Linked DNA regions of Homo sapiens. The protein of the gene in region 1 purifies or fractionates together with the protein of each later gene. This does not show direct contact. Each region holds a gene or a part of one and is shown in the gene's direction. Other genes may lie near its edges. The genes, in order: DHRS7B and ZDHHC11.

Evidence for each region.
Region 2: the proteins of DHRS7B (region 1) and ZDHHC11 purify together in Homo sapiens (co-immunoprecipitation; one large-scale study listed by IntAct). This does not show direct contact.

What each region holds. Positions count from the first base shown.
Region 1 is NC_000017.11:21,171,964-21,175,770, forward strand, and holds part of DHRS7B (dehydrogenase/reductase SDR family member 7B), read left to right. Parts: intron 1-54; coding exon 55-233; intron 234-3,807.
Region 2 is NC_000005.10:844,443-848,249, reverse strand, and holds part of ZDHHC11 (palmitoyltransferase ZDHHC11), read left to right. Parts: intron 1-469; coding exon of another isoform or gene 470-634; coding exon 635-736; intron 737-3,807. UniProt on the Homo sapiens protein: Endoplasmic reticulum-localized palmitoyltransferase that could catalyze the addition of palmitate onto various protein substrates and be involved in a variety of cellular processes.

The sequences.
Region 1 (3,807 bases):
GTCCCCTGAACTCTGCTACTTTGTCACTGGTGTGTTTGGTTTTGGTTCTTCCAGGAAGAGTCTGCCGAAGGTGAAGGCCATGGACTTCATCACCTCCACAGCCATCCTGCCCCTGCTGTTCGGCTGCCTGGGCGTCTTCGGCCTCTTCCGGCTGCTGCAGTGGGTGCGCGGGAAGGCCTACCTGCGGAATGCTGTGGTGGTGATCACAGGCGCCACCTCAGGGCTGGGCAAAGGTGGGTCCTGGAGGCAGTGCTGCCAGGGGGCGGGGGTAAGTCAGCCAGGGATGAGGAGCGGCCCAGCTGCACAGGGACCACCAGCGCAAATGCCCGAAGCGGCAGCAGAAGGCCAGATAAGGGAAGTGGGCCGGATGGCACTGTCCTTGGTACAAGTGGAAAAAGCAGGAGCCAAGGCACAGTGAGAAATGACTCAGCGTCAGGGTGGGAGGCAAGTGTGAGAGAAGCAGCCTGGCCCCGGGGGTGGGGTGGGGTGGGGTGGGATGGGATACCTGCCCCTCACAGGGCAGCCCTGCTCAGCCTCAGTTGCTTGCTGAGGTAGGAATTTTATGTGAAATATCCCAATTTCCAAATATGGACAGCTAACTTAAAACGTGTTTTTACCTCTATGAGGACCAAATGAAACATGTCCTTTCCTAGATTCAGCCGGGGCCTCTGGTTCACAGCTTTGGTGCATGCTTTCTCTGGGCCTTGCCATCCCAGGCCAGGCCCCCAGCTGTCCCCTCAGCATGGTCTAGACAAGGTCAAAGACAGATAAATGGTGCCTCAGCTGTTCCAGGGTCTCCAATCTAGGTCCATTCCAACCCAGTGAACACCATGAGCTTCTAAGTCTCAGGAATGGTGTACCGGGACCCTGGCCTGGAGTGTCAAAACCTGGGTTCCCCCTTCTCCCATTTCTGGAAGCCTCTGAGTTACAGGGCTCCATTGTTTTCCTGCCACACACGTATATTGACTTGGCACGTTGCACATGCACACACCATACCATCTGCCATCCACGCTTACTCTGAGTTCCATGGAAGAAAGCTGAGGAGTTCCCTGAATTGTGGTGACCCCACCCGCTGCTACATCTTCTGGTTGGTGATAGCTCAGCTGGAGCTGATGGAGCACCTGCTAAAGTGGGAGGCTCTGGGTCAGGTTCTAGAACAAACAGATGAAAGACAGGGTCCCTTCCTTCAAGGAGGTCACGGTCGTCTGTTGTAAGGAGAAAGGCAAGGACTTATCTCAATATATTGCCATTGCAGTAACATATGCTCTCAAACCAGCCTGGTGGCAACAAGGCACATGTATATGTGCTGACTTGTGCTAAGCACTTTTACATGCATGATCTCACTGACTTCTCACAGCTAAGATTCAGAGAAGGAATGACTAGGACTTCCAGCCAGAAGGTACAAAACCTAGAGTCAAACCCACATCTCTGTCTCTAGAACTCACAGTCTCAAAGCTTCAGCAGGGGAGATGGCCAGGTAGAAGGAATAGGTGGGCTAGTAGACAGAACATTCCAGACAGGCCCAGAGGTAGGGGAGAAGCACGGTCCTGTAGGGACTTATACAGTTGGGTGTTGCATGAACACAGAGAGGCAGGTGGGTCTTTGTGGTGGAAGTGGCTTGCAGTTGGCCAGGGGTGGCCTGGGAAAGCTTTAGGGAGTATGGATTCATTTGTGCACCACTGTGGATGTTAGGTGAGGTCTCCAGGGGTGAACACCATATCTGTCATTGGATATCCAGACCTTTGCAGGGACAGCTGTCTGCAGGCCCTTTGCCATCGTCAGTCCTCTGACCTTACTCAGTTACTATATATAGGGTGGTCAGCAGCCACTTCTCTTGAGCTCAAAGAGAAGCATTTTGTGAAAGTCCTTGAAGAGCATTTGAGGGCTGGCAGAGGTGGAGCTCTGAGTCGCAAGTGCTCCCATCCATGCATGTTTGAGAAGCATGCTGTCATCTTCATTCTGCATCTCCTCTCCTGACACCAAGACTATGAAGGGAACAGAAAATGTCACGGAGGTCACCAGACCTGTCTATGTATCATAAGATGTCAGGCCCTTCCTGGATTCCAGTCACTGCTTATATTCTGCCCCATTTAACTTTTTGGGAACAAGAGTCCCTCCATCCAGATAAAGTAGGGCAGGTTCTTAACTGGCCATGTCAAGTACAGCCACTGTTGATGCCACCAAGGACGTTCTGATGTTGCCTTGCTTCTGTGAGGAGGCAGAGCTATGTTGTCCTCAGTGGCTCTGCCTGCCGTGTCAGCCACCCGGAAGGTTTGGAGTTATGCAACGAGTCTTCAGTTTTCCGTGTTTCTCCTATCTTGTCTCTTGTTTTGTGTACTTAAGCCTCTTGAGCTTGTCCTTGTAGAATAGTGTGGGACCACTGACTAAAGGAACAGAACGTTCTGGATATCTCCTTCCTCCAGCTTTAGCCACAGGGCTGTGCACAGCTCTGTTGATTTCCAGCCAGGCGTGCCAGCGGCACTGGACAGTCATCTGCAGCCCTTCATATATCGTACCTTGGAGTTGTTTTCCTTGGACCCTCCTACCTTCCAATATCAGCTTTTCAATAAATGAAAATGGAATCCTTCCAATCTGTTGTTTTCATTTCTGTCACTCCCTACACAAACTTTCATTTCCTCTCTTTTTAGCTTTGCTAGGAAGCAAAACTCAAACAGGTTTGAGGCAGTCATCTCCCCAAAGCTGTTTAGACTCCAGCGGGACTCCCACCTTTGAAGGGTTCTGTGTCTGCACCCTTTGGTGGCACCTCACAAATGTCCTATGTATTGGTCAGGACAAGACAAAATGGGGTGAGGAAGCCAGCAGGGCCCAAGGTTCCTAGCCTTTGGGAATGATTTATAAACCGGATGAGCAGTTCTAGCCTCAGGAATGCTGGCATCTGGCTTGGAGTGCAGCCATCACCCCCCTCATTCCTGTGGGGGCTCTGCTGCTCTGCTGAGAAGCGCACCAGGGAGGCAGGGTTGGGGCGCTGGGACCAGGCCTCACTACCCAGGGTGGGTGCTCTCTCCGGGCTTTTGCCCTTTGTTGGGATGAGCCAACGAACACACCAACCTCACCTCCTTCAAAGAAGATAGTGTGTCTAGATTGAGTCTACTTAGCACCTCTTTCCCGAAGACTGTCGGGTGTATGGAGAGGCGCCTGGGGGATGAGCAAATGCTGTGTGGGGAGCTGAACAAGAAGCTGTGGAGCACACGGAGGCTTCACACCATGAGACAGACGTCAGGGAGCCTTCCCTCAGACCTCTCAGGACCCCTGGTGCTGAAGGAGTTTCTTCTCCTCCCATGTTTTGAACCCATCTAGCTTTAAGGAAGTTTGACACTTCTCTAAGGGCAGGCCTGTTCAGACCAGTACACACCGCCTGCCCCTCTGACCTTTCCTTCCCAGCTGAGGAGATGGCAGCCCTGATCCTCTGACCCTGCAGTATTGGCCCATCACCACATGGCTACCAGAGATGGAATTAGCCTGCAAAGGCCATTCCCTTTCATGAACCAGGAGCTAGGGTGCCACCTAATCACCTGGGCCTCTAAGATTCGGTCTGGAACCAAGTCAGTGGCTCACTGGTGTCAGGTCAGGGTCAGCCAGGGGCCAAGGTATCCTGTGCAGATCTGCTGGTGAGCACTTAAGGGAGACTATGCCTCAGGTGAGGACAGGAGTGCCTCTTTAAACCAGCATGTGGCCAGGTGCAGTGGCTCATGCCTGTAATCCCAGCACTTTTGGAGGCCCAGGCAGGAGGATCGCTTGAGTTCAGGAGTTCTAGAGCAGCCTGGGCAACATGGCGAAACCTCATCT
Region 2 (3,807 bases), on another chromosome or scaffold:
GGGTCTGTCACCTGCAGGTGACCCGCTGCTCCCCTGGAATGAAACACAGCAGCACTCAGGCATGTTTGGTCCTCAGTGGATTTTGTGCACGAGGTCCCTCCCCTGAGGGCCCAGGGCAAGAGAGCACTGTCTTTCTTGGGGAGTTTCAAGACAAGCCCCTAGGAAAGTGGGAGGTAAGGGTTCCAGTGTCTCCAGGGGCCCTGGAGGCCTCTGTGATGGCCTAGGGGTTGGCTACAGGGCTGTTGTCAGCTGCAAGGGAGGCCCTGTAGGCACAGGTGGGATCCAAGCCCCCGGCCTCAACTCCTGGAACCATGGGGCAGGCGCGGCCTCCTCCAGGGCCATGGCCCAGAGTGAGGCTGGTGTAGGACGGCTGGCGGGGGGTCTATGCTCAGGGCGGCCAAAGACACAGCTCCTCCTGCTCTGTGGCTACCTCTGCCCACAGCTGCCCTGCTTCTCCTCCTCCCCACAGGCCTCAACACCCTCCCCCAGCCTCCCATTCCCTGCTGGACGCCCTCTCCCCAGGCCGCACAGGGCTGGTTCCTCCGAGGCACCTGGCTTCCAGTGATGGACCTCTGGCCCTGCCCCAACCTGCGCACTTGGGGCCTGACAGGCGTTCCCCGATTCATCCCTCCAGGAACAAGAAAACCAAACACTGCATTTCCTGCAATAAGTGTGTGTCCGGCTTCGACCACCACTGCAAATGGATCAACAACTGCGTGGGAAGCCGGAATTATTGGTGAGGGGCACAGAGGGGATGGCCGGCACGGGCCAGGCTTGGGGGAATTTGGAAGGGAGGGGTCTGTGGGCAGGGGTCATCGTGTTGAAAGGGTGGAGGGTCCTCTTGGGGCCGCGTCCCTGTCCTGATGTGGTGGCGCTTGGTGCCTGCGTGCCCCGGCCTCCTGTCTGGCTCTGGGGCTGTGGTGCAGCCGTCCCTGGACAAGCTCATCCGCATAGAGTAAGTCCCTGGAGGCCCCCCGGGGGCACTTGCGGGGCCACGCTGGCTGAGGCCTCCTGACCACGCTGTCCTGGGCTGGGCTGCCTTCTCTCCACCCAGGCTGAGGCTCATCCAGCACAAGGGTGGGGCCACGGAAGGGCAGTGGGCACCCAGCGCAGATGGGCGAGAGGTGTTTCCCCTGAGCATGGTCGAGGCTCACAGATGAGAGGTGTTTCCCTGAGCACGGTGGAGGCTCATAGACGAGAGGTGTTTCCCCTGAGCACGGTGGAGATGCAAGGAAGAGAGATGTTTCCCTGAGCACGGTGGAGGCTTACAGATGAGAGGTGTTTCCACTGAGCATGGTGGAGGCTCACAGGCGAGAGGTCTTTCCCCTGAGCACGGTGGAGGCGCAAGGATGAGAGGTGTTTCCACTGAGGATGGTGGAGGTGCAAGAACGAGAGGTGTTTCCCCTGAGCACGGTGGAGGCTCACAGATGAGACGTGTTTCCCCTGAGCACGGTGGAGGCTCATAGACGAGAGGTGTTTCCCCTGAGCACGGTGGAGGCTCAAGAACGAGAGGTGTTTCCCCTGAGCATGGTGGAGGCTCAAGGACGAGAGGTGTTTCCCCTGAGCATGGTGGAGGCTCACAGGCGAGAGGTATTTCCCCTGAGCACGGTGGAGGCGCAAGGATGAGAGGTGTTTCCACTGAGGATGGTGGAGGTGCAAGAACGAGAGGTGTTTCCCCTGAGCACGGTGGAGACTCACAGATGAGACGTGTTTCCCCTGAGCACGGTGGAGGCTCAAGAACGAGAGGTTGTTTCCCCTGAGCACGGTGGAGGCTCATAGATGAGAGGTGTTTCCCCTGAGCACAGTGGAGGATCCAGGGACTCTCAAGGCCCCGTGTGCTGAGCCCCGGCTGTCTGCAGCACTGTATTGTGAAGATCACCAGGGAAAAGAACCACGCCTGCTCCCCAGCTACTCTGTGCTGACCTGAAAGAGGCCTTGGTGTGCGTGGGAGTGGGGACCAACGTTGCCTGGTGTCACAGGACGCACCGGGCGGTCCCTGCCCTGCCTCCCTGCCATCCCGTCTGGAGCACAGCATGTGTCCAGAGAGGCTGAGCAGCCCGGCAGGGACAGAGAGGTTGCATGACCGCACAGCGAGTCCAGAGGCTGCGTGAGATGGTAGGGGCCGGGGAGACCCACCGGCCTCCTCCCCTGGAGAAGAGCAGCTCCACGATGGCCAAGGTGGGGCCAGCTCCTCTGGCTCATGCTAGCCCCAGGTGCCACTTCCTTCTGGACTCATTCTGCTCTGGTGCCTCGAGCTGGCTCAATCTGGCGGGTCCTGGTGGGGAAGGTGAGGGGGTGAGGGCCCACAGGCAGGTGGCAAGGAGAGGGTCTGCCTTCCTCAGGAGGGGTGCTGGAGAGGGACCACGTGGGTGCCAAGTGTAGACACCGCCTGGGTGTGGGAAAGGGGCATCAGGAGAGCAGGGCCGGGGTCATGGGCGCCCTCAGCTCCAGGCAGCAGCCAACGCCGGCATCTGTGCCAACCTCGCTTCTGTCCCTTCATCCGCCAGAGGCGGAGAGAGCAACGGCATTGAGAGCAAGATGAGGAAAGTTGAGGAGCTGATGGCAGAGCCCCCGCGAGGGAGGCCGAGCTGATGGCGGAGCCCCCATGGGGAGGCCCAGCTGATGGCAGAGCCCCTGTGAGGGAGGCTGCATACTTCGTAGTGATAAGAGAGGAAGGGGGACGGAAAGAAGGCAGGCGGCGCTGGTGTCCTGGGAAGACTGTGAGCGCTGGCCTCGGACTCTGCAGGTTAAACACAGGCAGCAGGGGCAGGAGGCTGTGCTAACCAAGAGGAGAATGTCCCTGGGTGGCTGCGGGGAGAGGAGGCCCCGCGTGAATGGCTCTGCCCCATCCTGTGGGCTTTTGTCTCTGTGGTCTTAGAGACCCGCCTTCTTTCCTGGATGAAGAGGGGAGTCCTGTCCAGACAGTAGGATGAAGATGAGGGGTCTTTACTCCCCACAAGTGGGCTCAAGCCCAGGAGGACTGGGGGCAGGGTAGGGCGTGTCCGCTGCCTGGAGGGGCTGCTGCTTGGGAAACCTAAGCTGTGAGAGGGAAGGCAGTATGAGGGAGCAGCAGTCAGGGAGCCGCTCATGCCTGGAGCCACCCGTCACCCCTGGATTATCCAGAAGACTCTTGGAGGGAGGAGGAGCGCGGGGAAGGCAGCTGTGCCCTAACTGCCTCTTCGGAGGACTGCGGCATTCATGCTCTGGCCTCCAGTTGAAAATAGAAAAAGGGATTTAAACAAGCTTAGGTGAACATAATACAATGGAAAGGATTAAAGGAGGTTAAAGGATACTTTTAAAAAAATATCATCATGGCAGAAAGACCAAGGGAAGATGGTTTAGTCAAAGTATGTTCCAGGAACTGCTGCCCAGAATTGGTTTTTGTGGATGGATTATTCTCTGCATCTTTTGAGCAAAGACGAGAGACTGGGAGTGGATTTGGTCTCACGTCTACAGCATGGACATCGCTTTTGGCTCAGATTTGCACGAGACCCTTGGAGAAGGGGGGACTGCAGCCGAGGTGTGGCCGGGCTCCTCCAGGGCCTCCTCAGCCCGAGTTCCCTTTGGGTGCAGAGATCCAGGTCCCTGAGCCTGCAGGCCCTCCTGGGTGCCACGGCACTCTCGTGGCTCTCCCCTTCCCTGGCTTCAGTGCCTTTGCCCAGCATGGTGCCATGGAGACCCCAGCACAGACCATGCTCAGGGCCCCCCGAGTGGACCGAGCCCGCGTGCTCCTTGGCTGGTAGGGAGGCCTGTCTGCATCAGGTGGAGTCGGGAGGTGCGGGCAGAGGCCCCAGAGCTGTGACACTG